Homo sapiens: one gene and its partners. The protein of the gene in region 2 purifies or fractionates together with the protein of the main gene of each other region. This does not show direct contact. Each region holds a gene or a part of one and is shown on either strand. Other genes may lie near its edges. The genes, in order: SNAP29, SCFD1, SEC22B, RINT1, BNIP1, NAPA and DKKL1.

What was found.
Region 1: the proteins of SCFD1 (region 2) and SNAP29 purify together in Homo sapiens (affinity purification with mass spectrometry; 2 studies listed by BioGRID and IntAct, with this or other methods). This does not show direct contact.
Region 3: the proteins of SCFD1 (region 2) and SEC22B purify together in Homo sapiens (affinity purification with mass spectrometry; 3 studies listed by BioGRID and IntAct, with this or other methods). This does not show direct contact.
Region 4: the proteins of SCFD1 (region 2) and RINT1 purify together in Homo sapiens (affinity purification with mass spectrometry; 2 studies listed by BioGRID and IntAct, with this or other methods). This does not show direct contact.
Region 5: the proteins of SCFD1 (region 2) and BNIP1 purify together in Homo sapiens (affinity purification with mass spectrometry; 2 studies listed by BioGRID and IntAct, with this or other methods). This does not show direct contact.
Region 6: the proteins of SCFD1 (region 2) and NAPA purify together in Homo sapiens (affinity purification with mass spectrometry; 3 studies listed by BioGRID and IntAct, with this or other methods). This does not show direct contact.
Region 7: the proteins of SCFD1 (region 2) and DKKL1 purify together in Homo sapiens (affinity purification with western blotting, with the first as the bait; one study listed by BioGRID). This does not show direct contact.

The regions. Positions count from the first base shown.
Region 1 is NC_000022.11:20,861,079-20,865,506, reverse strand, and holds part of SNAP29 (synaptosomal-associated protein 29), read right to left. Parts: intron 1-4,428. UniProt on the Homo sapiens protein: SNAREs, soluble N-ethylmaleimide-sensitive factor-attachment protein receptors, are essential proteins for fusion of cellular membranes.
Region 2 is NC_000014.9:30,729,720-30,733,663, reverse strand, and holds part of SCFD1 (sec1 family domain-containing protein 1), read right to left. Parts: intron 1-3,944. UniProt on the Homo sapiens protein: Plays a role in SNARE-pin assembly and Golgi-to-ER retrograde transport via its interaction with COG4. Involved in vesicular transport between the endoplasmic reticulum and the Golgi.
Region 3 is NC_000001.11:120,162,464-120,166,891, forward strand, and holds part of SEC22B (vesicle-trafficking protein SEC22b), read right to left. Parts: intron 908-4,428; coding exon 747-907; intron 1-746. UniProt on the Homo sapiens protein: SNARE involved in targeting and fusion of ER-derived transport vesicles with the Golgi complex as well as Golgi-derived retrograde transport vesicles with the ER.
Region 4 is NC_000007.14:105,541,583-105,546,010, forward strand, and holds part of RINT1 (RAD50-interacting protein 1), read left to right. Parts: intron 1-144; exon of another isoform or gene 145-273; intron 274-825; coding exon 826-1,067; intron 1,068-4,428. UniProt on the Homo sapiens protein: Involved in regulation of membrane traffic between the Golgi and the endoplasmic reticulum (ER); the function is proposed to depend on its association in the NRZ complex which is believed to play a role in SNARE assembly at the ER.
Region 5 is NC_000005.10:173,160,902-173,165,186, reverse strand, and holds the end of BNIP1 (vesicle transport protein SEC20), read right to left. Parts: intron 3,115-4,285; coding exon of another isoform or gene 3,042-3,114; intron 2,876-3,041; coding exon of another isoform or gene 2,863-2,875; exon of another isoform or gene 2,827-2,862; intron 1,463-2,826; coding exon 1,266-1,462; 3' UTR 800-1,265; downstream 1-799. UniProt on the Homo sapiens protein: As part of a SNARE complex may be involved in endoplasmic reticulum membranes fusion and be required for the maintenance of endoplasmic reticulum organization. Also plays a role in apoptosis.
Region 6 is NC_000019.10:47,490,611-47,495,038, forward strand, and holds part of NAPA (alpha-soluble NSF attachment protein), read right to left. Parts: exon of another isoform or gene 4,418-4,428; intron 2,992-4,417; exon of another isoform or gene 2,884-2,991; coding exon 2,806-2,883; intron 2,565-2,805; coding exon 2,509-2,564; intron 2,436-2,508; coding exon 2,351-2,435; intron 1,510-2,350; coding exon 1,405-1,509; intron 247-1,404; coding exon 178-246; intron 1-177. UniProt on the Homo sapiens protein: Required for vesicular transport between the endoplasmic reticulum and the Golgi apparatus. Together with GNA12 promotes CDH5 localization to plasma membrane.
Region 7 is NC_000019.10:49,369,827-49,374,254, forward strand, and holds part of DKKL1 (dickkopf-like protein 1 isoform 1 precursor), read left to right. Parts: exon of another isoform or gene 1-1,317; intron 1,318-4,428. UniProt on the Homo sapiens protein: Involved in fertilization by facilitating sperm penetration of the zona pellucida. May promote spermatocyte apoptosis, thereby limiting sperm production. In adults, may reduce testosterone synthesis in Leydig cells.

The DNA of each region.
Region 1 (4,428 bases), on a different chromosome or scaffold from region 2:
TCCTTGGGACAATGTGGCAGCTGTGAGTGGATGTGCCCAGGAAGGAGAAGCCAGAAGCTCGAACAACCAGCCCATCCTCAGAAGGCATCCTGTTACAGCCAACAAGCCAGCAAATTGGCCTGGGATCAATGGTCTAATTCTTTTTTTTTTTTGAGACAGGGTCTCACTTTGTCACCCAGGCTGGAATACAGTGGCATGACCTCAGCTCACTGCAGCCTTGACCTCCCTGGTTCAAGAGATCCTCCTACCTCAGCCTTCTGAGTAGCTGGAACTACAGGCATGCACCGCCATGCCCAGGTAATTTTTGTATTTTTTGTAGAGCCAGGGTTTTACCACATTCCCCAGGCTGATCTTGAACTCCTGGGTTCAAGGGATCCACCTGCCTCAGCCTCCCCAAGTGCTAGGATTACAGGTGTGAGCCACCACACCTGGCCATCAATGGTCAAATTCAATCATTGATAGTTTACCAAAAATTAATTAAAAATAAATCCCGAACAGACCTAGCGGTGAGTATGTGGTCCAATGCCATTTCTCCACCAGACTCCCTCCCACCTGCTAGACACAGCCTGACATGTGTTGGGATGCATTTTCTGGTCACAGGACAGGCATTGCAACCAAGGCACACAGCTCAATGCATTCTTTCCACCCAACTCTCTCCTCCTTTTTCAGGCAATCTTCTGTTCCCTCCCTCCTTCCTTTCCTTCCCCAGGTCACTTATTCATTTGGCAACTATTTTGGGAGCGCCAATAACGCTTAAGGACATTGTGCTGAGAAGCGTGGGGGTAGAAAGTTGAGCAAGAGATGGGTAAGAGACTGCTCCTCTTCCACTGCTGACATTTACAAATTTGAGGAATTACTTAATCTAGCAGCTGCTTGTCCCCATCCATCAACTTTTGCTAAGAACTCTGGCTGCATCAGTATCACCACACGCTGCCTCAGAGGGGTGACTTTGGTCTGTACGGCCCCTCATTTGGAGTGGGCTGCTCCAAGACCAGAATCCCTGAGAATGAGGATATCACCTTTTGGCAATGTATCTACTCTAAGTTCCGGGGACACCTTGATGGCCTCTGCTCCTGGGCCAGGAGGGGTGTCCTCCTCTCTCCCACCTCTGAATGGAATGCCCAGTGTGGGTGACTGTTGTGTGCTGGAAAGACACAGAGATGGGTGGGCCCCTGCACGAGACGGTGTGGAGGATGTGCTGGCGGTGGCTGCTGAGTGCATCACGTTTGAACTCTCAAACTCTGTCCCTTTCCATTGATGTTACTGTGCCAGCCGTTCCAACCCTGGTCTAATGTTTGTTGCTGGACTCCCCTGAACCGAGATCTCGGGCCCCAGAAAACCTCAGTGGAGTTAAGTTCAGCTACAAGAGGGGAAGCAGAGTGTCCTGGGCAGGTGAGTCTCCTCCACTGGAGTGATGAAAAGGTGTACAAAAACCATGTCCAAGTAGGATGCAAATAGACTCACCAAAAGGTGTAAACAACCTCAATGCTCATCATTAGGGGACAGGCTGCATAAATAGAAGTCATTTGTTCAATGGAATACAACACAGCCAAAAAGAAAGCCCAGCTCATTACATACTAGTGTGGAACAAACTCCATTCTATTAAGCACATGCAGACCAGAATGTATACAATACTTCACTTAAAAAAAAAAACCCATTTTTATCCACGGCATTATCTCCCCAAAACACTGAAGGAGGGAAAGTGCCTGGCTGCCTTAGGGGCAGAGGGATGATAGGGAGGGAAGTGGGAGAAGACTACACCCTTTTGTATGTTTTGAAATTTTGAACCATGTGATTGGAATCTCTCTTCATAAAAATTAAACCTTAGGAAAAAAAAAAGAAGAAATCATGCTTACTAAACAGGGAAAGAGACGAGTGGCTTACAAGTCTCCCTGTAGTTCTACAAAGCGCCTACCAGGTCGGCCTGGGGAAACCGCCCTGCTCCCACTACTTCTCCTCTGTTCTTTTGTGGTCATAGCCTGTGGCCTGAGCCTTTGTGAGAAACAATCCTTGCCAGGTTTCACAGTAGGAGAAGGGCAGCTCTCTTTGCTAGAGGTGACTTAACTAAGCCATTTTCCTGCCAAGCTGGGACTGAATTATAATCTTCCCAACCTAATATAATTTGTAAAGTCCTCATCTTTGACATAAATCTGTCATGTGTTGGCATGTTTCACAGTGCTGGGGTAACCAGGCACCTAAGTTGGGTGATTAGCAGGGTATGCTGGAATTTGCTGGAAGCCACACTGTGCACTGAGGGTTGGAAGAGCTCATACTCCTCTGTTCCCATCCCAACACCAAAGGGAATGAAAGAGTGATTAGAGTGATTCAAAGACAGCTTGGAGCCTGTAATCCAGCACTGGGAGGCCAAGGTGTGCAGATCATCTGAGCTCAGGAATTCGAGACTAGCCTGGGTAACATGGCGAAAGCCCATCTCCACCAAAAATACCAAAAATTAGTCGAGTGTGGTGGCGTGCACCTGTAGTCTTGGCTACTTGGGAGGCTGTGGCAGGAGGATCACTTGCACCTGGAGGCAGAGGCTGCAGTGAGCCAAGATTGCACCACGGCACTCTAGCCTGGTTGACAGAGTGAGACCCCCATCTCAAAAAACCTCCCCCAAAACAAAACACAAAAACAAAGACAGCTTGGAGAACACTGGGTGTGGTGGAGATGTAGGTCATCCCTGACTCCCAGGGCTTCTCATAATTGAGAACTGACCCAATCCTGGAAAATTCCAACATGTTGTCTCACTGACAAGAGCACCTGTCACCTGCCCAGTCATGACCACACTGTACTTCTCACAGCAATGCCTGGCCTGGCCAAGCCTGATATGCCTGAAGTGCCACTCTGCCTCAGCTCTCACTGTCCCCACTGCATAGAAAGACCTTTGGGGGCAGCACGGGGCATGTCATCACAATCTATATCAAACTCACCACTATTACATTTTTGCCTCTCCTGCGCTATGAGACCAGAACTTTCCCTATGACCTCCAAGGGCTCCTAAGCTACCTCCTCCATCCCCTGTCCTCTAACACACCCAGTCTATCATGTCCCTCCTCTGGACCCAGGAGCTCTGTTGCTGGGCCAGTGCATTTGCATATTTTCCTGTCTTCCCTAAGAACATCCCTCATTCTCACTCCTCTTGTGTAAACCTCAGCCTTAAAAGCTAGATTCAAGTTTATCCTCTGCCACAATGCCCTACTTTGAATCATTGATTCCCTACTTCATTTGTTCTCAGTTTACAAAGATGTCTCCTTAAATAGTTGTTAGTTGAATTCCTTGGGCTTGAGATCCTCAATCATGTGACCCATTCACCAGGGCCCTAAAACCTCAGGCAATCCTCTCAAATCTAAGCCAAGACTTCCCATTTAGAATGGAACATAGGAATCCAGTAGGTATGAGATGTAAGAACTACAGGCAAAACCTCCCTAACAAGGTTAGGACCGGGCGCAGTGGCTCACATCTGTAATCCCAGCACTTTGGGAGGCTGAGGTGGGCAGATCACCTAAGGTCAGGCGTTTGAGACCAGCCTGCCCAACATGGCGAAACCTGTCTCTACTAAAAATACAAAAATCAGAGGCCAGGTGTGGTCGCTCACGCCTGTAATCCCAACACTTTGGGAGGCCAAGGCAGGTGGATCATGAGGTCAGGAGTTCAAGACCAGCCGGACCAACACAGTGAAACCCCGTCTCTACTAAAAATACAAAAATTAGCTGGGCATGGCGGCGGGTGCCTGTAAGCCCAGCTACTCAGGAGGTTGAGGCAGGAGAATCGCTTGACCTGGGAGGCAGAGGTAGCAGTGAGCTGAGATCGCGCCACTGAACTCTAGCCTGGGAGACAGAGCAAGACTCCGTCTCAAAAACAAAAAACACCAAAAAAACAAAAACAAAAACAAAAACAAAAAAATTAGCCAGGTGTTGTAGCAGGTGCCTCTAATCCCAGCTACTTGGGAGGTTGAGGCAGGAGAATCATTTGAACTGGGGAGGTGGAGGTTGCAGTGAGCCGAGATCACACCATCGCACTCCAGCCTGGGTGACAGAGTAAGACTTTGTCTCAAACAAAACAAAAATAAAAAACCAACAGTTAAACACAGGGAGGTGGGCTAGGTGCAGTGGCTCACGCCTATAATCCCAGGACTTTGGGAGGCCGAGGTGGTGGATCACGAGGTCAAGAGATCGAGACCATCCTGGCCAACATGGCAAAACCCCAACTCTATTAATACCAAAATTAGCTGGGTGTGGTAGTGCACGCCTTAGTCCCAGCTACTCAGGAGGCTGAGGCAGGAGAATCACTTGAACCCAGGAGGCGGAGGCTGTAGTGAGCCAAGTTGGTGCCACTGCACTCCAGTCTGGTGACAGAGCGAGAATCTGTCTCAAAAAAAAAAAAAAAAAACCACAGGGAGGTGGATCAATGAGGGATACATGAACAGAGA
Region 2 (3,944 bases):
TGGTTTATCGTAGTCTCTAGCCCAGGCCCAGAATTCATCACTAGTTAATACTTCATTCAGGTTTGGCTAAACATCAGCACCATGGATCCTGGTATTCTTGGAGATAAGCACAGGGGTACAGTAGCCCAGTTGAGATTAATCCTGACTTGTACAGTCCCCACCCTGGACCAAGCTTTCTTAACCAAATTACTCATCATCATTCTTTTCTAATCGTTTTTAGCCATCCAATGAAGTGTAGGTGTAATTTTAAAGAAACACTGTAGTTTACCAAACATTCCAGTGCAAACTTGTTCTTAATCATGTACAAGCTTGATGACCCCTTTACTTACTCTGTCAGTTAAAAATTGAACTTTATGGGCTGGGCGCAGTGGCTCATGCCTGTAATCTCAGCACTTTGGGAGGCCGAGGCAAGTGGATCACAAGGTCAGGAGTTCGAGACCAGCCTGGCCAGCATGGTGAAACCCCATCTCTACTAAAAATACAAAAATTAGCCAGGTGTGGTGGCGCATGCCTGTAATCCCAGCTACCCAGGAGGCTAAGGCAGGAGAACTGATTGATTGAACTCGGGAGGCAGAGGTTGCAGTGAGCCAAGACTGCGCCACTGCACTCCAGCCTGGGTGAGAGAATGAGACTCTGTCTCAAAAAAAAAAAAAGAAAAAAAAATCGAACTTTATAAAATGTACCAGTATATTGATTCAATGTAAAATTAACTCAGTGTAGTTCTTTCTCTAACCAATCACCTTCCATCAAGAGAATACCTTGTGGTTTTAAGTCAAGTTCCCAATTCATCAATATTAGTATTATCAAATGTTTTGATAAAATCAGTCAAATTATTTTTTACCAATTATACCAAAGTTATACCAAATAGCATTTACATTGTGAGTTAGATTAACAACATTACTAAATAAATCAGAATTACAGCAGTATTTTCTGGCACTTGCCCCTTATGTTGTGGACTAGTATAAACCAAGGGCCATGTTAGTTAATTCTGTATTGCCAGTCTCATGTAGGCATAGTCGCATGTTTAGTTTCATACTACGAGACTGTACTGACACAGGTTTCTAATGATGTGAGGAAGGCTGTCATAGACCTAGCTCAGTTCCTTCTTAATAGGGCTGAATGGTAGGGAAAAGATTAGGATTATTCAGGACAAAAAAACTAAAAGGGATTTAAAAATCCTCTCAGGACAATAAACTGGGGAGCTTAGTAGCTACTAAAAATTTAATGGATCTAAAGGGCATCTATGAATAATGTAATAAAATATATAATGGTCAAAGACTAGATGCTTTGCCCGTATGATGAGAAAGAAGACAAGGATGTCTGCTCTTGCCTCTTCTATTCAACAATGTACTGAAGGTTCTAGCCAGGGCAGTTGCAGAAGATAGAAAAGAAGCAAAACTATCTCTATTAATAGATAACATGATCTTGTATATAGAAACTTCTAAAAATCCATTAAAAACAATTGGAACTAATAAACTCAGCAAGGCTGTGAAACGTAAGATCAACATAAAAATCGGTTGGATTTTTATGCACTTGGAATGAGGAATCCAAAAATGAACTTAAGAAAATGCCTTTTGTCTTTGACAAAATTCAACAGCCCTTCATGCTAAAAACTCTCAATGAATTAGGTATTGATGGGACGTATCTCAAAATAATAAGAGCTATTTATGACAAGCCCACAGCCAATATCATACTGAATGGGCAAAAACTGGAAGCATTCCCTTTGAAAACTGGCACAAGACAGGGATGCCCTCTCTCACCTCTCCTATTCAACATAGTGTTGGAAGTTCTGGCCAGGGCAATCAGGCAGGAGAAAGAAATACAGGGTATTCAATTAGGAAAAGAGGAAGTCAAATTGTCCCTGTTTGCAGATGACATGATTGTATATCTAGAAAACCCCATTATCTCAGCCCAAAATCTCCTTAAGCAGATAAGCAACTTCAGCAAAGTCTCAGGATACAAAAATCAATGTGCAAAAATCACAAGCATTCCCAAACATCAATAATAGACAAACAGAGAGCCAAATCATGAGTGAACTCCCATTCACAATTGCTTCAAAGAGAATAAAATACCTAGGAATCCAACTTACAAGGGATGTGAAGGACCTCTTCAAGGAGAACTACAAACCACTGCTCAACGAAGTAAAAGAGGACACAAACAAATGGAAGAACATTCCATGCCCATGGATAGGAAGAATCAATTATCCTGAAAATGGCCATACTGCCCAAGGTAATTTATAGATTCAATGCCATCCCCATCAAGCTACCAATGACTTTCTTCACAGAATTGGAAAAAACTACTTTAAAGTTCATATGGAACCAAAAAAGAGCCTGCATTGCCAAGTCAATCCTAAGCAAAAAGAACAAAGCTGGAGGCATCACACTACCTGACTTCAAACTATACTACAAGGCTACAGTAACCAAAACAGCATGGTACTGGTACCAAAACAGAGATATAGACCAGTGGAACAGAACAGAGCCCTCAGATATAATACCACACATCTACAACCATCTGATCTTTGACAAACCTGACAAAAACAAGAAATGGGGAATGGGTTCCCTATTTAATAAATGGTGCTGGGAAAACTGGCTAGCCATATGTAGAAAGCTGAAACTGGATCCCTTCCTTACACCCTATACAAAAATTAATTCAAGATGGATTAAAGACTTAAATGTTAGACCTAAAACCATAAAAACCCTAGAAGAAAACCTAGGCAATACCATTCAGGACATAGACATGGGCAAGGACTTCATGTCTAAAACACCAAAAGCAATGGCAACAAAAGCCAAAATTGACAAATGGGATCTAACTAAACTAAGGAGCTTCTGCACAGCAAAAGAAACTACCATCAGAGTGAACAGGCAACCTAAAGAATGGGAGAAAATTTTTGCAATCTACTCATCTGACAAAGGGCTAATATCCAGAATCTACAAAGAACTCAACTTTACAAGAAAAAAGCAACCCCATCAAAAAGTGGGCGAAGGATATGAACAGATACTTCTAAAAAGAAGACATTTATGCAGCCAACAGACACATGAAAAAGTGCTCATCATCACTGGCCATCAGAGAAATGCAAATCAAAACCACAATGAGATACATCTCACACCAGTTAGAATGGCAATCATTAAAAAGTCAGGGAACAACAGGTGCTGGAGAGGATGTGGAGAAATAGGAACACTTTTACACTGTTGGTGGGACTGTAAACTAGTTCAACCATTGGGGAAGACAGTGTGGCGATTCCTCAAGGATGTAGAACTAGAAATACCATTTGACCCAGCCATCCCATTACTGGGTATATACCCAAAGGATTATAAATCATGCTGCTATAAAGACACATGCACAGGTATGTTTATTGCGGCACTATTCACAACAGCAAAGACTTGGAACCAACCCAAATGTCCATCAATGATAGACTGGATTAAGAAAATGTGGCACATATACACCATGGAATACTATGCAGCCATAAAAAAGGATGAGTTCATGTCATTTGTAGGGACATAGATGAAGCTGGAAACCATCATTCCCAGCAAACTATAGCAAGAACAAAAAACCAAACACTGCATGTTCTCACTCATAGGTGGGAAATGAACAATGAGAACACTTGGACACAGGAAGGGGAACATCACACACCGGGACCTGTAGTGGGGTAAGGGAAGCGGGGAGAGAAAGCATTAGGAGATATACCTAACGTAAACGATGAGTTAATGGGCGCAGCACACCAACATGGCACATTTATACACATGTAACAAACCTGCACGTTGTGCACACGCACCCTAGAACTTAAAAAAAAAAAATGCCTTTCGTAACAGCATAAAAATATACTCTGAAGACTACAAAATATTATTGAAAGAAATTAAAGATATAAAAGGAAAACATCCCCTATTCATGGACCAGAAGCCTTAATTAACATTAAGATGAAAATACTCCCCAAACTGATCCAGAGA
Region 3 (4,428 bases), on a different chromosome or scaffold from region 2:
AAACTTGAAACACTTCAAAAATTCTAAGCCAGTAAAACCAATTTCTCTTTTAACTAAAAATTTCAGCGATATAGCCTGATCCTACTTGTTCTCACTCCCTGTACTTACTGTACTTAGGACATTTCCTTTGATCCCTTACCATCAGATACTTTACCAGGTCTGATTAGTAATTAGTCTTTCTATAATTCTTGCACAAATACAGACACCTATGCTCACTATTCCTGAATGTAGTAAATATTATACCCCAATACCATGAGTACCAGGTATCTTCTATTTCTTTGTTATGTTTTGTTTTTTTAATTAGAGGATCTTATTCTACTAAAAGAAACAAAACATCATTCTTTCTGATTTCCCAATTCTGATCTCCATAAAATGAGCCTTATTGTGAGTGTGAGTCTGTGGACTGGGGTAAAGAAGAACTCAGCCATTATATGCCAATCAAGTAGATCTTTAGGCACAGTTCCTGTCACATGTGACTCTAAAGAAGAATCAAACCAAATAACAGAAAGGGCAAAAGGCAACAATTTCTATGGGGGAAAGATCAAAAGACTAGAGAAAATTACTTTTCAGAACAAAGCCTTAGTCACTCAAAAAGACAAAAAGAAGTGGAATGGAAAAGGATGCAGAAGCTAAAACTTCAGCAAGTAAACATCAGAAAAAATGTATAAATATTATATCAGTGTAACAAATAGCTTCTCCATATTGTTTGCTCCCTTGATAGAGAGAAGTGAGGGGCAAAAACTTACCAAATTCAATAAAGGAATAGGGTCGGGACACAGTGGGCACCTTCTTTCCATGCTGTTCATCAAATTCTGAGTGCAAATCTTCTAGGTAGGCAAAAGCCAACTTCTTAGGGAAGGCAGCTTCACATAAAACCAAATAACACACCCCCTGCTCAATAATGTAGCTGGTGAGACATAAAAAGCAAGACAAAGTTATCTGTAAAGTAATAGCACTGACAACAGTTTAAAGCAGAATCTCTGTACCATGCAAACTTTTTAAAAAATCTAGCCTAAATACTTTGAGGCTGGCTAAACGAGAGTCAATTTAAAACCGCAAATCCTTGGAATCAGAAAGCAAACATCTTCCCATTATTAGATGTATATTCTTTTTTTTTTCTTTTTTTTTTTGAGACGGAGTCTCGCTCTGTCCCCTGGGCTGGAGTGCAGTGGCATTATCTCGGCTCACTGCAACCTCCGCCTCCCGGGTTCAAGCCATTCTCCTGCCTCAGCCTCCCGAGCAGCTGGGACTACAGGCGTGCGCCACTATGCCCAGCTAATTTTTGTATTTTTAGTAGAGACGGGGTTTCACCACGTTGGTTGGCCAGGATGGTCTTGATATCTTGACCTCGTGATCCGCCCGCCTCAGCCTCCCAAAGTGCTGGGATTACAGGCGTGAGCCACTGCACCCAGCCTATTAGCCGTATATTCTAAAAGGAGTATTTAGACATATTTATTATAATTTTTCATCCATTAGATTCTCTTTTTTTTTTTTTTTTTTTTTTTTGGAGACAGGGCTCTTTCCATCACCCAGATTACCCAGGCTGGAATGCAGTGGCATGATCTCAGTTACAGCAATCTCCACCTCCCAGGTTCAGGTGATTCTCACACCTCAGCTTCACAAATAGCTGGGATTACAGACACCCACCACCACACCCAGCTAATTTTTGTATTTTTAGTAGAGATGGGGTTTCACCATTTTGGCCAGGCTGGTCTGAAACTCGTGACCTCAATCGATCCACCCAATTCAGTCTCCCAAAGTGCTGAGATTACAGGTGTAAGCCACTGGACCCAGCCCATTACACAATTCTTCAACTAACATTTTAAACTTTTATTTTAGCTTGAGGATGTATATGTGCGGGTTTGTTACCTGGGTATATTGCATAATGCCGAGGTTTGGGGTACAAACAATCCCGTCACCCAAGTACTAAGCATACTACCTAATAGTTTTTCAACCCCTGCCCCCTCCTTCCCTCCTCTTCTAGTAAGTCCTCAGTATATTTATGTCCATGAGTGCCCAATGTTTAGCTTATAAACTTATAAATGAGAATATACAGTATTTAGTTTTCTGTTCCTGCATTAATTCACTTAGGTAATGACTTCCAGCTCCATCCATGTTGCTGCAAAGGACATGATTTCATTTCTTTTTATGACTGCATAGTATTCCATACTGTATATATACTACATTTTCTTTATCCAATCCACCACTAACATGTACCTAGGTTGATATCTTTGCTATTGTGAATAGTGCTGCAATGAATATGCAAGTGCATGATTTTTGGTAGAAAGATTTGTTTCCTTTTGGATATAAACCCATTAATGGGTTTGCTGGGTCTAATGGTAGTTCTGTTTTAAGTTCTTTGAAAAATCTCTAAACTGCTTTCCACAGTGGCTGAATTTACATTCCCACGAACAGTGTATAAGCAATTCCTTTTTCTCCACAGCCTCATCAGCATCTGTTGTTTTTTGACTTTTTAATAATAGCCCTGTGACTGTTGTGAGATGGTATCTTATTGTGGTTTTGATTTGCATTTCTCCAATAATTAGTGATGTGCATTTTTTCATTAGTTTGCTAGCCTCTAGTATGTTTTGAGAAATATCTGCTCATGTCTTTTGTCCATTTTTTAAATGGGGTTGTTTTTTGCTTAATACTTAAGACTTTTTCTTGAAAAATTCAGAGTTGTGACTCCATCCACCCTTTGATTCTATATGGTAAACTAGCATACACATATTTAAACTCTTTCCAGCCACAAAGGAAAACACTGTAACTGGAAATTTCTGTGGATAGAAATGTAAGGTTAATGACATAATGTTTACTGGGTACAAGACTAATAAGACTCCTTAATTTACAGTCCAGGAGAACTCTGTAATCAACTGGAAACTTATCAACAATGGAACTGACTTTCTTTTGTGATGATGAGCGCCCATGCACTCTGGAAGGGGCTGTATGATTACACATCTGAGAAATTCTTAGAAAAATGTTAGGCTACTAAGTGGTTTTCCAACTTCTTTTTAGCCATAGTATACATACACACACATGCAAATATATATATTTATATATGGAATATGTATATATAACAAGCAAAACATATTCAGAAGGCCAATGTATATATCAGATAAAATCAGAGGTTCTTTAGTTTAAGTAGGAGTTTGCAAATATTTTCTCCCATTGTGCAAGTTGTCTCTTCACTGTGTTGTTTCCTTTGCTGTGCAGAAGCTTTTAGTTTAATACAGTCCCATTTGTCTACTTTCTTTTCTGTTGCCTGTGCTTTGAAGTCTTTGCCATAAAGTCTTCGCCCAGGTTCATGTCCTGAAACATTTCCCCTATGTTTTCTTCTAGTAGTTTTATAGTTTAGGGTCTTATGCTTAAGTCTTTAATCTACTTTAAGTTGATTTTTGTATATGATGAGATAGGGATCTAGTTTCATTCATCTGATGAGGAACTAATATCCAGAACATACGAGGAACTCAAACAACTCAACAGCAAAACCAAAAATAATTCAATTAAAAAGTAGGCAAGGAACAGAATTGACATTTCTCAAAAGACATGCGAATGGCCAAGTATATGAAAAAATGCTCAACATCACTAATCTTCAGGTAAATGTAAATAAAAACCACAACGACATATTATTTCACCCCAGTTAAAATGTCTATTAAAAAGACAAAAGTCAATAAATGCTGTTGAGGATGAAGAGAAAAGAGAACTTTTATACACTATAGAAAACAGTATGGAGGTTTCTCAAAAAACTAAAAACAGAACTACCATACAATCTAGCAATCCCACTGCTGGGTATTTCTCCAAAGGAAAAAAACTCATTATGTTAAAAACTTATCTGTACCCCCATGTTTACGGCAGCACCATTCATAATATCTATGGATAGATAATCAAGAGAAATGTCCATCAAGAGAATAATGGATTTTAAAAGTGTTTTTTACACACACACACACACACACACACACACACACACCATGGAATACTATTCAGCCATAAAAAAGAATGAATTTCTATCATTAGCAGCAACATGGATAAATCTGGAGGACATTAAGTTAAATAAAATCAGTCATGCACAGAAAGATAAATATGGCATGTTCTCATTCATATGTAGGAGCCAAAAAAAATTTTTGAGCTCATGGAAGTAGAGAGTAGAATTGTGGGTATTAGAAGTAGGGAAAGGTAGAGAGAAGGGGAGGATGGGCAGAGGCAAGTTAATGGATAAAAAATTACAACTGGATAGGAAGAATGAGTTCTGGTGTTCTGCAGAACTGTAGGGTGAATATGGCTAGCTATAACTTACCACGTATTTTCAAAAAGCTACAAGATTTTGAATGTTCACAACACAAAGAAATGATAAATGTTTGAGGTGATGAATATGCTAATTACTCTGATTTGATTACACATTGTATACATGTATTGAAATATCACTCTGTA
Region 4 (4,428 bases), on a different chromosome or scaffold from region 2:
CTGACCAACGTGGTGAAACCCCGTCTCTACTAAAAATACAAAAATTAGCCGAGCGTGATGGCACGTGTCTATAATTCCTGCTATTTAGGAGGCTGAGGCAGGAGAATCACTTGACCCCGGGAGGTGGAGGTTGCAGTGAGCTGAGATCACGCCACTGCACTCCAGCCTGGGTGACAGAACGAAACTCTGTCTCAAAAAAATAAAATAAGTTTTCTCTAGCTGGATCCTCTGCTGAGCCTATGGAGGCAGACCTCTAGATGCTTACTGGAGCCAGTGAGTTAAGTCCCTTTCTCTACATGTATGTGTATATGTATGTATGCATATATTTTTTATTTTATTTTTATTTTTTTGTTTCACTTATTGTTTTCAACACAAAGGCATACTTCTTCCTGCTATTTGTGTGTATATAAAACAGCATGTTATGTTTGGATTGATTAGTACAGGATGAAGAAATCAAACCTTTTTTTGAAGGTTTTGATGGATGATTTTCAGTTCTGTTACAAAAAATGTGTATTTTGAAGGGAACGAACTAATAAAAAAGGTTACATACAGCCTGGGCAACATAGTGAGACCTTATTTCTATTTAAAGAAAAAAAAAAAAGAAAAGCCAGGTGTAGTGGTGCATATGTGTAGTCCCAACTACTGGGGAGGTTGAGGTGGGAGGATTGGTTGAGCCCAGGAAGTCCAGGCTGCAGTGAGCTATGATGGTACCACTGCACTCCAGCCTGGGCAACAGCGTGAGATCCCCTCTCAAAAAAAAAATTATGAAAATTTTATCTGATTGCTGCTGTTCTTTCTTTCTTTCTTTTTTAAAATTATGGTCAGGTACTTACAATTTCATCAGAAATTCCTAAAAGAATTCGAAGTGCCTTAAAAAATGCAGAAGAATCAAAGCAATTTCTTAATCAGTTTCTGGAGCAGGAAACTCATCTCTTCAGCGCCATTAACAGCCATTTGCTGACTGCGCAACCTTGGATGGACGATCTTGGAACCATGATTAGCCAGATTGAAGAGATCGAACGTCATCTTGCTTACCTTAAATGGATTTCACAAATTGAAGAACTAAGGTAAAATGGGCCTCTTTGTTCTCACAATTACTATTTTCCTTTGAGGCTTCTGTCTTAGAGAGTACATGTGTGCCATTAAATAATTGAGTTAATTAAAGATTATAATAATATAATTTTACCAGTTGTTGTGAAAATAGCATTATGATAATGATTCTTTTCCTTTATTGTGAGTGAACATAAGCTTTTCAGGGAGCTTAATTAGCATTTGAAAGAAGGTAATGTAAGTACGTTAAACTTTTAAGTTTTTTTTTTTTGAGATGGAGTCTCGCTCTGTCGCCCAGCTGGAGTGCAGTGGTGCCATCTCGGCTCACTGCAAGCTACACCTCCCGGGTTCATGCCATTCTCCTGCCTCAGCCTCCCGAGTAGCTGGGACTACAGGCGCCCGCCACCATGCCTGGCTAATTTTTTTTTTTGGTATTTTTAGTAGAGACGGGGTTTCACCATGTTAGCCAGGATGGTCTCGATCTCTTGACCTCACTGTCCGCCAGCCTCGGCCGCTGGAAGTGCTGGGATTACAGGCATGAGCTACCGCGTCCGGCCAAACTTTTAAGTCTTACAGTTGGATTATGAACACATGATAAAAACTATTCTTTGTAATGCCAAATTAATAAAACACAAAGTTTGGTAATAGTTATTCTTATTTAATTTTTAGAACTGGTCAGTTAATGAAATGGATTGCTTTTGTATAATTTGAATATTTTTCAGTGGGAATCATAAGAGCTACACAGTATTCTTGGATGAATAACAAGAGTTCTGCTACCTCTGGGTAGGAAAAACAAAAAAGGAAGTAAGGCTTGACCTTAGTTCTTTTTGAGTTGAATACCTATCACTGGTAGTTAATTGTATCTAGCTTTGCCTTTCAGACAACCCAAAGTAACATTTCCACCTAGATTAGTAGATGATAAGGTCCCCACTATCCTTGCATTGTTTTAACTAGTACTTGCTGCAGAGCTGTCAGCAACCATTAATTTTGCCTGGAAAACCTGAGGGAGAAAAGTCTTCTGGGAGTCTTAATGTCCTGTTTCAAATGTATCATAGTTAATAAACCTGATATTACTTTTGTTATGGATATGTTTTATGTATTTCTTTTTCTTGCATATATTTCCCAAAATTTTAAAGAATTTTACATATCAATATAATATAGAAATCTTTGTTTTTAGGCCAGGTGCAGTGGCTCACACCTGTAATCCCAGCACTTTGGGAGGCCGAGGCGGGCAGATCACGAGGTCAGGAGTTTGAGACCAGCCTGACCAACATGGTGAAACCCCGTCTCTACTAAAAATACAAAAAAAAAAAAGAAATTAGCCAGGCATGGTGGCGCGTGCCTGTAATCCCAGCTACTTGGGAGGCTGAGGCAGGGGAATTGCTTGGACTCGGGAGGCAGAGGTTGCAGTGAGCTGAGGTTGTGCCATTGCACTGCAGCCTAGGCAGCAAGAGCGAAACTCCGTCTCAAAAAAAAAACAAAAAAAACAAAAAAACTTTGTTTTGCATGTATGAGGAGTTTTACATATAAAGTGGTTTAGAACATCTCATTCTTGTTTAGATAAATTATTTGCAGTGAAGGAATTTTAAACCTTGCTTTATTTTACTGCATTTCTCCTTGTCCCTCAGAAAGGAAATATCAGTAAGGGGCAATGTTAATAACTTTATTAAGTAAAATACGTTATTTGAAAACCTCACTCTTGTAGTAGCCAAAGTAATAGATTAACTAAATTAGGTCCATGGTTATTGATAAACTTTTCTTTTTTCTTCTTTTTTTTAACATTTATTTTATTTATTTTAATTTTCTTTTTATTTTTTTTTGAGTTGGAATCTTCCTCTGTTGCCCAGGCTGGAGTGCAGTGGCACAATCTCAGCTCACTGCAACCTCCACCTCCCGGGTTCAAGCGATTCTCCTGCCTTGGCCTCCCGAGTAGCTAGGACTACAGGTGTATGCCACCACGCCCAGCTAATTTTTGTATTTTTAGTAGAGATAGGGTTTCACTATGTTGGCTAGGCTGGTCTTGAACTCCTGACCTCAAGTCATCTGCCTGCCTTGGCCTCCCAAAGTGCTGGGATTACAGGTGTGAGCCACTGCACCTGGCCTTGATAAACTCTTCAGATATCTGAATTGTTTATAAGGGAAATATGCCGAGGGATTTATATTAGAAATAGGGATCAAATTCATAAGCAGGTAGAGCACAGTTATTTTTCTGTCTTTAATAATGTGTTATTTCCCTGAGGTCTTTTATGATAATCTCTCCATTTCCAGCTTTCCTTTAGAGCTTCTGGGATTTTCTTCATCTCTAAATTTTTTTATAATGGCCTATTTTTATTCTGATGTACATTGTCTTTTTTTCAAGTAGTTTCTTCTTGCTAGAATTAGCATCCTTACATTAGCTCTGTTTCTTGGATACTATAGTATAGCACTATCACTCTGAGTGAACCTTGTTTCTCTAGCTTTTCCTATGTTGTAAATGTCATTCATACTTTAGTGTTGTGAGGAAATCTATTTCATTCCTTCCTTAAAAGCAGTACTCCTGCCGGGCATGGTGGCTCATGCCGTAGTCCTAGCACTTTGAGAGGCTGAGGTGGGCAGATCGCTTGAGCTCTGAATTCTGTGACCAGTCTGGGCAACATGGCAAAACCCCATCTCTGTTTAAAAAAAAAAAAATCAGCCAGGCTTGGTGGTGAGCACCCATAGTCCCAGCTACTCGGGAGGCTGAGGTAGGAGGATCGCTTGAGCCCCGAGAGGTTAAGATTGCAATGAGCCGTGATTGTACCACTGCACTGCAGCCTAGGTGACAGAGTGAGACTCTTTTAAAAAAAAAAAAAAGGCAGTACTCATATTCTGTTTGTACATTTGAAATTCTTCTGTAATATTTGTATATATATATATATATTTTTTTTTTTTTGAGATGGAGTCTTACTCTGTTGCTGAGGCTGGAGTGCAGCGGCACCCTGTCAGCTCACTGCAACCTCTGTCTTCTGGGTTCAAGCAATTCTCCTGCCTCAGCCTCCTGAGTAGCTGGGATTACAGGTGCCCATGACCACGCCTGGCTAGTTTTTATATTTTTAGTAGAGACGGGAAGGGTTTCACCAAGTTGGCCAGGCTGGTCTCGAACTCCTGACCTCCGGTGATCCACCCATGTTGGCCTCCCAAAGAGGCCACCACGCCTGGCCTCTTTTTCTTTGAGACGGAGTCTCACTCTGTTGCCAGGCTAGAGTGCAGTGGCATGATCTTGGCTCACTGCAACCTCCGCCTCCCGGGTTCAAGCAGTTCTCCTGCCTCAGCCTCCCGAGTAGCTGGGATTACAGGTGCCCACCACCATGCCTGGCTAGTTTTTATATTTTTAGTAGAGATGGGGGATGGGGAAGGGGG
Region 5 (4,285 bases), on a different chromosome or scaffold from region 2:
TCAGATGTTGGTGTGAGCCACTTCCAACAAGGGCTGTTTTCTGTTCTGTTTCTGTTTTTTTGTTTTTTTTTTTTAAATACAGACAGGGTCTTGCTATGTTGTCTAGCTGGTCTTGAACTCCTGGGCTCAAGTGATCATCCTGCCTCAGCCTCCCAAAATGCTGGGATTAGAGGTATCAGCCACCACACCTGGTTGAACAGGGGCTGTTGGACCCTCCTTCCTGATAGTCTGTGAGATTTTATTTCCGTGTCTCCTTCTGTTCCTCCTTGAGGGAGGAACCATGTCTGGTTCACCAATGTATTTGTCATGTTCAGCAGCGTCTATAACACCCTGTGTGTGGCAGCTGTTTAATAGTTCCTTGTTGTTGGGTGGGGACAGAAAGAAAATAACAATGCTAATTCGTTGTTGAATGAATGAATAAATAAATAATCTAGGTTCATGTCCTAAAAATCTGGACATCAAGAAAAGAGGGCTGGGCATGGTGGCTCACACCTGTAATCCCAGCACTTTGGGAGGCCAAGATGGGTGGATCACCTGAGGTCAGGTGTTCGACAGCAGCCTGGCCAACATGGAGAAACCCCATCTCTACTAAAAAAATACAAAAATTAGCTGGGTATGGTGGTGTGTGCCTGTAATCCTAGCTACTTGGGAGGCTGAGGCAAGAGAATCTTTTGAACCCAGGAGGCAGAGGCTGCAGTGAGCCAAGATTGCGCCATTGCACTCCTGCCTGGATGATAGAGCAAGTCTCCATCTCAAAAAAAAAGAAAAAAGAAAAGAGGAACACACATTCCCAGAGGGCTATCTTACAAAATCAAATACATTTTATTCTATTAAATAAAATCAAGTTTATTCAAGGAATGACCAGGAGTTTTCATCACCTTTCTTCCTACCTCTTCTCTCTTCCCTCCACCAGATCTGGCATTTAAGGGCACGATGGGAGCGGGAGACAGGAGGGGCATCCGGTCCTGGAGGCTGGACTTTAAGTGCTCCACGCAGCAGCGGCCTCCCATAGTGCACAATGGTGGAAGGAGGCGGTTCGTATGTCCCCAGGGCGGCATCCCAATGCCAGACCTTCCTCCCATGGCTCTGTTCACCCTTTACAAGCCAGCTACTTGCAGAAAAGTGGGGCACTGTGTTCCATCCAACCTGCAGGCAACTGGTGCAAACGGAGGGGTGTGTGGCTCAGCTTAGCAGCCTAGAGCTCAGGAACCAGGACAGATCCTGAAACAGGAGCTGAAAGGGCCAGAACTGGCACCTTTGGGATCTCACAAAAATGGAAAGAGCCGCTTTTTCACAATATAGAGGACCGTAGCAAGAAACAGGGCTAGCGCAAGGAAGATGAGAAGCTTGTCCGTCAGCTCCCGGCGATTGTATTTTGTGATAAGCTTCCGGCCCAGCTGGATGGTGCCCGACATGGACTTAAATTCTTCATTTGCATCCAGGATCGTTCGTGAAGAAGTGACTGAAACAAAAGAGGAAGGAGGCCCAACTCAGAGACTGCAGCTCAAGATCCAAAGACCTCACTCTGCTGGCTGGGGTGCTGATAAAAACCAGCATTCTCAAGTGAGTTCCTCTGAGCTGGAATCAAAGCATGTGGAGACCAGCCAAGGAGCTGACAAGGAAAGGCTCCTCCCCAGGTCCCATCAGCTCCAGAGAGTGAGGGGGGGTTTGTCTGGGAGTCCTTGAACATGAGCGTCACCAGGGAGAAGGGCAGAAGAGGCTTGCTCACCCAGCCACCTCCTCAGCTCTCTGAAGCAGATGGACGCTGCTCAGGGAAACCACCAGCCACAAAATCAACCCAGGGATCGTGGGCAGGCACTGTGAGGTCTGTGTTGGGGCAGCAGCCAAATGCACCAGAACCTTCCACCTATGAGGTGCGGCCTCCAGGACATCTGCTGGCCAGACCGGCACTTTGCAGGATCTCAAAAGGGCAAGGGTGTCCCGGGCTCTGCCGTAAGCCCTCACACATACCAGTCCCTCAGGCCAGGGATACTGGCTGTAGCTTTAAGGAGGTGACACCTAAGAAGAGGCCCACGTCCCTTAAGGAATCACTGTCCCCAGAGTCAGATGTATTTCTGAATATGGGTATCTGGGCCTGACGCTGAGGGTAGAAGGTGTACCTGGCGAGGTTCTCCCACAAAACATAGCAAGGCATCATCAGAACAGCCATTGAATAGAACACATTAAGTGAAAAGGGAAAGTATAAAGGAACGCCTGTGAAATGTTTCCATTTAGGTAAGAAACAGGGAGATAAATGGTATTTCATTTGCTTAAGTTACAAAAGCTTGGAGGATCACAAGATATTTTTTAAGACACTGGTTACAGAGGTTGCCTCTGGGAAGTGGACCAGAGGGCTGGCAGGTAGGGGTCAGCTGGAGGTCAGAACAGAGAGTGATCTTTTTTGTGTCCCTTTTGTACTCTCCAGAGCTGTGCTGACCAATATGGCAGCCCCTAGACATGCGAGGCTGCTGTGCATAGAAAAACGTGGCTAATGCAAATGGAGATGTCAGGAGATGTAAGTGTCAAACCCACACAATGTTTCTTTTCTTTTTTTTTTTGAGATGCAGTCTCACTCTGTCACCCAGGCTGGAGTGCAGTGGCGTGATCTTGGCTCATCACAACCTCCACCTCCCAGGTTCAAATGATTCTCCTGCCTCAGCCTCCCCAGTAGCTGGGACTACAGGCATGCACCACCACGCCCAGCTAATTTTCTTTTTGTATTTTTAGTAGAGACAGGGTTTCAACATGTTGGTCAGGCTGGTCTCGAACTCCTGACCTCAAGTGATCTGCCCGCCTTGGCCTCCCAAAGTGCTGGGATTACCGGCATGAGCCACCGCGCCTGGCCAAAATCCACACGATGTTTCAAAGACTTAATCTAAGAAAAAGGAATGTAAAATATCTCAATAGTTTTTAATATTAGTTTTACATTGAAATTATAATATTTTACATAATGGGTTAAATAAACATCTTACTAAAATTAATTTCTTATGTTTCTTTTTACTTTTTAACATGTGCCTACTGGAAAATTTAAAGTTACATACGTGGCTGCTGTTGCGTTTCTATGGCAGTCCTGGGCTAGAGTTTTCTTATCCTTCTCTATGCTGTATGTGTTACCTTTTTAAAAATTAAAAGCTAATAAGTAAATAGGATAAATTATCAGAGGAAACACAGCAGCGTTTTGAAAATGACAGATAAAAGGAGAAAAACAAACACTCACAGAACAGGAATCCCTCTCCGCCTGCTTTCTCCACGCCTGCCTGCTGCGATTTCAAAACCCTGAGATCTTGCTAAGTAAAAATCTAATAGGCCTTTCTTTTTAAACTTTATTATTACGGAGAATTTTGAACCATCACAGAGCAGACAGCATAATATCATGAAATGCCATGTGTCCACCACCCATAACCAAGAACCACCAACCTCTGAAATCCTGCTCCCCCTCCCCCCAACTGCAACTACTCCTGCAATTGTGGAGCAAATTCCAGACACCATATTCCTAATAAGCTTTTTGTTTTAAAATTATGGTCCTAGTAGGCTTTTAAATCAAGCTGAATTTGTGAGGCATAAGGAAAGGGTTAAGAACTGTATTCTTCTCTTTTCTTCAATAGTTATCGCTTGTACAAAATGGGCCCCAAGAACACCGGGACCCTCTCAACACCCCAGAAGCCACCAGCATTTGTGTTTCCTTCCCACTGTTAGCGGGGGGTATGCTGTCGCCACACCAGAGCATAAAAGCCCTGGGCTCAGAGGCCAAGTTGTCGCCTTGCTCCCTCTCTCTCCAAGGCCTCTCCCACAGCACACGCTGAGAGGAAGCCCCTGGCTGGTTCCGAGCCCAGATGTTCAGGTAAGCTGCAAACTCAAGGAGTGACCTTGGGGTCACCTGCTTGCTTTCCTTTTGCTTCTGCCTATTTGGTGCACTGAAAAAACAGTGGTCCAAAATTATAATTTCTAGGGGTGATCATGGTATTGTAGTTATGGGGTTGCTTCTGCTTTTTCCCCAAAGAGTCCCTTATCTTTTAGAGAGATGTACTGAGATATTTATGGATGATGTCTGGGATTTGCTTCAAAATAATCCAGATGGGGGATGGGCTGAGGGTAGAACTGAAACGAGACTGGCTGGGGTAATGGACTCAGGGCTCAGGGGATTCAGGATACCATGCTTTCTCCTTTTGTCCACGTGTGCAATTTTCCAAAAGCGTTTCAAGGAGTAAACGCCCTTTTTCTGTTGTCTTATACTGAAGGACCCTGGAGAGGGCTGATACTCTTCTCCATCACAGAGGAGACACTC
Region 6 (4,428 bases), on a different chromosome or scaffold from region 2:
ACTTTCTTCATCTGGAAAATGGAGACTCAAATGGCCAAACAAAACAAAACAAAACAAAACAAAACAAAGACACCCTCTGAGAACTACTGGACAAGTCTTGGCGATTGTCCCACCTGGAGCCCCAGCCACCCCCGTCTGAGGTTCGGGAAGGGGGAGGCCGGAGCACCCAGCACTTACTTTCATCAACTTGCATTCCCGGGAATCAGAGAAAGCTGGGAACAGCTCCTCATACTTTTGGACAGCCAGCTGGGCAGCAGGGAAGGGAGAAGATGAGTTAGTAACAAGAGGGTCCTCAGAGCTACTGGCCTAGCAGCTGAGGGGACTTGGGGATGTCGGGTGATATTGAGTCAGCTCTTGCACCCCTCCCCCAGCCTCAGGTGTCACCTGGCTCTGTGTCTGTCAGTACCTTCCCGTAGCTGAGCTCAGCACCAGCCTGGCTGCAGAGATGGCTGCAGGGAGAGGTGGGTGGAGGGGGAAGGTTCCCCAGATAGGCACCCACTGCCTCCTCCCACCTGGCTCAGCTGGGGCAGGGGACAAATGAGCACATCCTCCATGCCAGGCCTGGGGCTGGTGCTTCTTGAGGACCCTGAGAGGGTCAAATGACGGTGAGCCCCCTTTTCAAAGTGAGGAAACAGATCCAGAGAGGGGCAGTGACCTGCCCAGGGCACGGTGAGACATGGGGTGGGAATGGGAACCTGGTCTGACAAAGCCCAAGCTTTTGCCCACCACCGGTGCCCACAGCAGGGCAGGGCTCTGTGGGGTGTGTGTGTGTGGGGTGTGTGGGGCCACCACCCCAGGCCGTGAGCCAGGGACACCAGGAAATCCTGGACTCCGTGCTTCTGCCAGGCAATGGTAAAAAAACTCCGGCCAAGCAAAATCTAGCGCCAACCCTCCAGCTCCTTCCCGCTGGCCACGCCCCCTCCCACTGCCCTCTTTGGCCCCTCTTTTGCCAAGTGTCCTGAAAATAGGTGGGCATGTGTGAGCTACAGCTAAAGCCACGACAGCAGGAGTCACAAAGATCTGGAACACTGGGGCTGCAGGTCCCTAGTCATGTGGCCTCAAACAAGGGACTCTCGTCCCAGCCTCACCATCTTCACCCATAAGACGCGGTGACAATGGTGCTGACTTTAATGGGGTGCAGTGAGGATTCAAAAAGTGCACCCATGAAGGAAAGAGCACTAAGTGAGGCAGGAGCTGGACCCGCAAAAGCCTCCAGGGCTGGGTGGGCAGGTGATGCCAGCACAGAAACACAGCTGTGAGAACCACACTTCTCATCCAAAGGCTGGCTGGCAGGGGCCAGACGTGAGGGAGGAGCACGTCCCTCTTCGGGGGCAACGGGACCTGGCCTGGAGATAAGCACATGGTGGCCTGGTGCGGTGGTCCTGCGGGCGTGGGGTGTGCTACCTTGGCGTTGAGCATGTCGATGCAGAAGTGGCAGAGGGCCGCCTTGAAGAAGTAGTCTTTGGCGCTGTACTTGAGGAGGGGGCTGTCCATGGCATTGGTCCCCACCTGTAGCCATGGAGAAGTGGCACTGGTGAGCTCAGGGCAAGCAGCCAGAGGGCCAGAGCCACTGCCAGGCACTGGGGGGCCAGCTGGGAGCTGGTTCATGTCCCGAGGTGAGGCCCTGTTAACCCAGGACCCCAAGGGCAGGGAGCCAGGGACCAGCTTGGAGAGGTCAGCGGCCAGTGCGTGAGCGACCAAGATCAGGGTGTGATGGTGGCTGGGTGGGGGTGGAGGCTGTAGCCAGGTGTTCGTGGGCCTTCTGAGAGCCTGAGACAGTGGGAAGGAGGCAGCCTGGCTGTCAGGACCAACGGGAGGCTGGCATGGCGGTGGGCAGAGCGGCGGCAGGCGGTGGGAACATGAGAGGCGGCGCCCGCCCCTCTCTCCCAGGGGGCCAGCTGCCTGCCTTTTTCTCGGCCATCACCCAGGGCTCCGTGCACGCTGGGGGGACCCCATGTGACACTCCCTCCCTCCCACTGTGGATGAGGACCATCGGGCCATGGGGTGGGGTGCCCACGGCCACCCTGGGCCTCTTGGCACTTCTTCCCATTCCCTCCCTCTGGGTTCTTTAGCCAGCCTCACTCTGGGCCCCTCCAGGAAGCTCTGCGAGGGGTGTGGGAGGGGCACAGCCAGGGAGAGAGACGGTGCTGGCACGGCATGGAGTCGTAGGTGGAGAACATTCAGCCAGGCTGAAGACAGGGTGGGGGGATGACATGGCAAGGGATGTCGGGGGAGAGGCAGAGGGTGAGCCGGGGGAGGGGTGGTTCCAGAACAAGGTGCCGGGGCTTAGGAGGAGGCACAGGCCCTGAGAGGGGGCAGGGTGGAAGCCGCCATCCCCACCTGTCCCCACCTGTTCGTAGATGTCAATGGCCTTCTGATACTGCTCCAGCAGCGCAGCGTAACCAGCCACCTTCAGCAGACACTTGTTGGCTGAGCTGTGTGGGGAGGAGTAGTGAGGGGAAGTGGTGGCGGTCCCTGCGGGGCTGGGGCAGGCAGGAAGGGGGCTACCTGTTGGACTCCTCGCCTTTGTAGTAGTCTGCAGACTGCTCGTAGTGGGCAATGGCCTGGGGAGACACGGGGGATGGGTTCCAGGGGAGGGCAGGGAAGGGAGAGGAGGCCTCCGTGAAGCTTCCACACCCTCCGCCCTGCCTGCCTGGGACACAGCCAGACCCCATTCTCCAAGCTCTGCCGGCGCCCCATGCCCCCTTCTCGGCACTCAGACACCAGAGGACTCCCCTGGTGGGAAGAAGAGAGAGCAGCACTGGTCCTGGCTGCCAGCCCATGCAGGGCCCTGCTGCCACTCACCTTCTCGATGTCCACCAACTCTGTCTCATAGATCTCAGCAATGGAGATGTGGTGCTTGGCCGCAATCGTGAATCGGCCCTGGAGGGGACACAGGAAGGGGCTGCCTGCGACTCATGACCTCCTGCGTGCCTGCCTGCTGACCTATGACCCTTCAAGTTCCCACCCCTCAGCCACGCCTGTGAGGAGGTATGAAGAAGACCTGAGGTGTGAAGAAGATCGAGAGGTGGGGGAACACAGGAGTGAGAAGGGAGGGCCCCAGCACTAGAGGCCTGGCTATGCGTGCTGGGCTGAGCGGGTGATGTTGGACAAGCCACTCCAGGGCCTTAGCCTAATTCCATCCCATCCACGAGGGCACAGATGGTGTGACACCAGAGAGAATGTGAGCACGAGCACTTGGCCAAGGCCCTGGCCCTTAGGAAGCCTCTGATAACAGCCAGAGAGGCGGAAGGACCAGTCCAGAGCCACTTGGCAAAGGGCTCTGGAGAAACCAGGATGGGAGGGAGGGCTTGAGACCTCTGCCCAAGAGTACCAGCTCTGCCCCCAGGCCAACACCTATCTGTCAGCCTCCCCCAGGCACACCCAGAGCTCCCCAGGGAGGCCTCAGGTTCCAAGGGGCCTCGCACCTTCCATCCGCCTCCACCCAGTGTCCAGGCGCTTGCCTAACTGCTCTGCACCAGGGGCTGGTCCAACGCCACCCCCTTGCTGAGGGCAGTAGGAAAGGGCAAGGCCCTGGGCTCAGCCAGACCTTGTTTCGGGTCTCAGTGACTCCTGCTTGTAGCCACATGTCCCTGGGCAAATCATGTCACTTGTCTGAGCCCCTCTCCTCCACTAAGGAACGGGGATGACAATAATGCCAACCTCACAGGGCTGTGGATTAAACCACCCTGCAGTGTCTGGCCTAATAAATGGCAGCTGCTATTATTGTTCTAATCACAGTCATCCCTGCAGCACTGCCCTGAACGCAAGGGGTAGGGCTCGTGTCCCTGCCTGGGGTTGGAGGGCTGAGACAGACAGGGCAAGCGGAGAGGCAAAAAGGAGCTGGCCAGGCACGGTGGCTCATGCCTGCAATCCCAGCACTTTGGGAGGCCAAGGCAGGTGGATCACTTGAGGTCAGGAGTCTGAGACCAGCCTGGCCAACATGGTGAAACCACATCTCTACTGAAAATACAAAAATTAGCCAGGCATGGTAGCACACGCCTGTAATCCCAGCTACTCGAGAGGCTAGGGCACGAGAATCGCTTGAACCTGGGAGGCAGAGGTTGCAGTGAGTGGAGATCACGCCACTGAACTCCAGCCTAGATGAGAGAGAAACTCTGTCTCAAAAAAAAAAAAAAAAAAAAAAAGAGAGAGAGAGAAAGCACTGACAGGAGCCCCGGCCTGGGTGGGACCCTTCACTCTGGCTCCAGTTGGCAGCTGCCCATCTGGTCTGCATCTGTCGTTGGCAACGCGCCCTGGGGGCAGGGCAGGTGCTGAGCCTCCTGTGGGCTCTGCCTATCCCTGTGGCCTGCTGCAAGATGCTTATCAAATGTGACACTTGCGGGAAGGCTGGGCAAGGGGAAGTGCCGGACACACACTCTCCAGTAACCTAATTTCTTTTTTTGTTTTGAGACAGGGTCTTGTTTT
Region 7 (4,428 bases), on a different chromosome or scaffold from region 2:
AGAAGGGTGCTCGTGAAGGCTAGAGTATTGCCTCCAAGATGCAGCAGTGGATACTCAGGTTTCAGGAGACTCCACTGTCCATGGCGAATCCATGGTCTGCCAGCGCAGTTTTAGAGAGAGAATGTGCCACCGCAGGTGTCATCCTCATGTGCACCCTGGCAGGTAGCCATCTGAAGATTTCAAGGACAACCTGGCAGGGGAGCAGACCAGCGACACTTCCTCTGAACAGGTTCTTGCTGTTCACTTGACAGACTCAGCAACTCAGGCAAGTGTTCACATGGAAGATATCCTGGAAGGATACCAAGCCAGTGAAAGCTCAGATGAAAATGCCCCATGGCTTTGGAAGGCCAATGAATGTGCCAAGGAAAAAGGTGCCATGGAGGATCCTCTGGAAGACCTCGCCAATGAAATTTCAGATTAGGACACCCCACTGGATTTGAAGGCCAAAGAACGTGCCAAGGAAAAAGTTCCCATGGAGGATACCCTGGTGGAAGACCTTGGAAACGAAAGCTCAGATAAGGATGCCTCACTGGACTTGAAGGTTGACAAACGCATGAAAGAAAAAGTTCCCACAGAGGATACCCTGGTGAAAGACCTTGCCAATGAAAGCTCAGATGAGGACGCTCTACTGGATTGAAGGCTGATGAATTCACCAAGGAAAAGTTCCCACGGAGGATACCCTGGTGGAAGACCTTGCCAACAAAAGCTCAGATGGGGATGTTTTGCTAAATTTAAAGGCTGACAAATGAGCCAAGGAAAAAGTTCCCATGGAGGATACCCTGGTGGAAGACCTCACCAACGAAAGCTCACATGAGGATGCTCCACTGGATCTGAATGCCGACAAATGTGCCAAGGAAAAAGTTCCCATAGATAATCCAGTGAAAGAATTTGCCAACAACATCAAGGAAAAGGAGGCCCCATGTAATGTGAAGGCACCCTAGGGAGTCCAGGTAAATGATTTCAAGGATGACCTGGCGGGGATGGTGATCAGTGAAAAGTCCCCAGAAGCAGCCCTATCTCTTCACAGGGCAAAATGAGATGCCAAGAAAAAAGATTGCTTCGCCATTCTTGTAGCAGAGCTTCCTGAAGAGATGTCCTCAGGGCAAGTGCTGGCCGTTGTCACCGTGAAAGGCATCAAGAAAAATGGTGGCTCTGAGGACAGCTTTTCTAAAACCAGTAATGACAAAGACTCTTCCTGTAGTGGAGACACTCAAGCTTCTGGAGCAGATATGGAAGAGTCCAATCATGCAGATGACCATCAGCATATGCCAACAAGTACTCTCCCAGCACCTGCAGAAAAAACAATAGAGACAAAGCCTGAAAAGGCAGAAGAAATGTAACCCAGTGAGTTCAAGGAGGATGAGGATGCTGAAGAGCCTGACCTGACCTGTTGTGACCTTTGTTTTTTATGCTAGAAGTCCCTACAGATTTTTTGAACACCTGGAAGGGCCGGGTCACAAGACCTCACCCTGGCCCAGCAACCATCTGGACCGTGAGAGTTTTGGGGATTTTGCTACTCTCTCTGGACTTTTACATTCTCTTAATTTTTTAAAAAATATTCTTTCTTTAACCTGTTTTAAGATGCAAGCTGTCATTGCGTCATCATAGTTACATTTTATTACTCAAATAATTTTTCAATTGTTTTACTAGTTTTTTTTGGATCTTTGTCCACTGGTTTTAGAGTTTTTGTAATTTTGATAAATGATCTTTTATGCTTTGTATCATTTTCTTAATGACTTACCTTAGTTTTTAACAAATCCATGGTACAGTAAGTTATATTAAGACATAGTATTTTTATGTTTTTTTAAATTATACTTTGGGTTCTGGGGTACATGTGCAGACATGCAGTTTTGTTGCATAGGTGCATGTACCATGGTGGTTTGCTGTACCCATCAGCCCGTCACCTGCATTGGGTGTTTCTCCTGATGCTATCCCTCCCCTGACCCCCCACCCCCCACCGACAGGTCCTGGTGTGTGATGTTTCCCTTCCTGTGTCCATGTGTTCTCATTGTTCAGCTCCCACTTGAGTGATAACATGCAGTATTTTGTTTTCTACTCTTGTGTTGGTTTGCTGAGAATGATGGTTTCCAGCTTCATCCATGTCCCTGCAAAGGACATTAACTCATCCTTTTCTGTGGCCGAATAGTATTCCATGGTGTATATGTGCCATGTTTTCTTTATCTAGTCTATCACTGATGGACAATTGGGTTGGTTCCAATTCTTTGCTATTGTGAATAGTGCCATAATAAACATGCATGTGCCTGTGTCTTTATGGTAAAAAAAAATAGTATAATAAATATCCCTATAGTCTCTTTTCCATAAACCAAAATTTCTTAAGGTTGGCATCATTGGCATGTGGGGCTGGATAATCTTTATTGTGGGAGCTGCCCTGTGCACTGTAGGATATTTGATAACATCCCTGGGCTCTATCCACTAGAGAGAAGTTGCCTCCTGCCAGGCACAGTGGCTCATACCCGTAGTCCCAGCACTTTGGGAGGCAGAGACGGGCGGATCATGAGGTCAGGAGTTCGAGACCAGCCTGGCTAACGTAGCGAAACCCCGTCTACTAAAAATACAAAATATGGGGCCAGGCACAGTGGCTCACACCTGTAATCCCAGCACTTTGGGAGACCGAGGCAGGCAGATCATGAGATCAGGATATCAAGACCATCCTGGCTAATGCGGTGAAATCCCGTCTCTAGTAAAAATACAAAAAAATTAGCCAGGCATGGTGGCAGGCGCCTGTAGTCCCAGCTACTCAGAAGGCTGAGGCAGGAGAATGGCGTGAACCCGGGAGGTGGAGCTTGCAGTGAGCCGAGATCGTGCCACTGCACTCCAGCCTGGGCGACAGAGCGAGACTCCGTCTCAAAAAAAAAAAAAAAATACAAAGTATGGCCAGGAGTGGTGGCTTACACCTATAATCCCAGCACTTTGGGAGGCCGAGGCGGGCAGATCACCTGAGGTCAGGAGTTCGAGACCACCCTGACCAACATGGAGAAACCCCGTCTCTACTAAAAATACAAAATTAGCCGGGCATGGTGGCACATGTCTGTAATCCCAGCTACTCAGGAGGCTGAAGCAGGAAAATCGTTTGAACCCAGAAGGTGGAGGTCGCGGTGAGCGAAGATAGCACCATTGCACTACAGCCTGGGCAACAAGAGCGAAACTCCATCTCAAAAAATAAATAAATAAATAGGCTGGGCATGGTGGCTCACGCCTGTAATCCCAGCACTTTGGGAGGCCAAGGCAGGTGGATCACCTGAGGTCAGGAGGTTGAGACCAACCTGGCCAACATGGTGAAACCCCGTCTCTACTAAAAATGCAAAAATTAGCTGGCATGGTGCCATGCCCCTGTAATCCCAGCTACTCTGGAGGCTGTGGTGGGAGAATCGCTTGAACCCAGGAGGCAGAGGCTGCAGTGAGCCGAGATTGTGCCACTGCACTCCAGCCTGGGCTACAGAGTGAGACTCCATCTCAAAAAAAAAAAAAAAAGAACACAGTCATGTTGGATTAGGGCCCAACCTAATGACCTCATCTTCACCAATTATATCTTCAATGACCCTAGTTCCAAATAAGGCCACATTCTGAGGTATTACAGGTTAGAATTTCAAAATATGAATTTGGGGAGGAAACAATATGGTTGTTTGTTCGTTTGTTTTTTAAGCCTGGGTCTTGCTCTGTTGCCCAGGCTAGAGTGCAATGGCACAATCTTGACTCACTGCAGCCTCTGCCTCCCAGGTTCAAGTGATTCTCCTGCCTTAGCCTCCCAAGTAGCTGGGATTACATGAGCGCGCCAGCACGCCCAGCTAATTTTCATATTTTTAGTAGAGACAGGATTTTGTCATGCTGTCCAGGATGGTCTCAAACTCCTGACCTCAAGTGATCTGCCCACCTCAGCCTCGCAAAGTGCTGGATTACACACATGAGCCACCGCGTCCAGCCAGGAGGAAACAATTTAACACATAACAATCTCCTGCGCGGCTTCTCAGACCTCATCTTACTAAAAGGCAGACTGATTCAGCAGGTCTGAGTGGGGTGGGACCTATTAATTTGCATACCTAACAACAGCAGCCCACCCTTTGAATTGCAAGGACCAAACAGACACTCAGTCCATATTCAAACTTTCTCCCTCAACTCAAAGCTGTCCTTGAAAGCTTTATTTTTTTTTTTTCCCTTGAGATGGAGTCTCGCTCTGTCACCCAGGCTGGAGTGCAGTGGTGCGATCTCGGCTCACTGCAAGCTCCGCCTCCTGGGTTCATGCCAATCTCCTGCCTCAGCCTCCCGAGTAGCTGGGACTACAGGCGCCCGCAACCATGCCCGGCTAAATTTTTTTGTATTTTTAGTAGAGACAGGGTTTCACCGTGTTAGCCAGGATGGTCTCGATCTCCTGACCTCGTGATCCGCCAGCCTCGGCCTCCCACAGTGCTG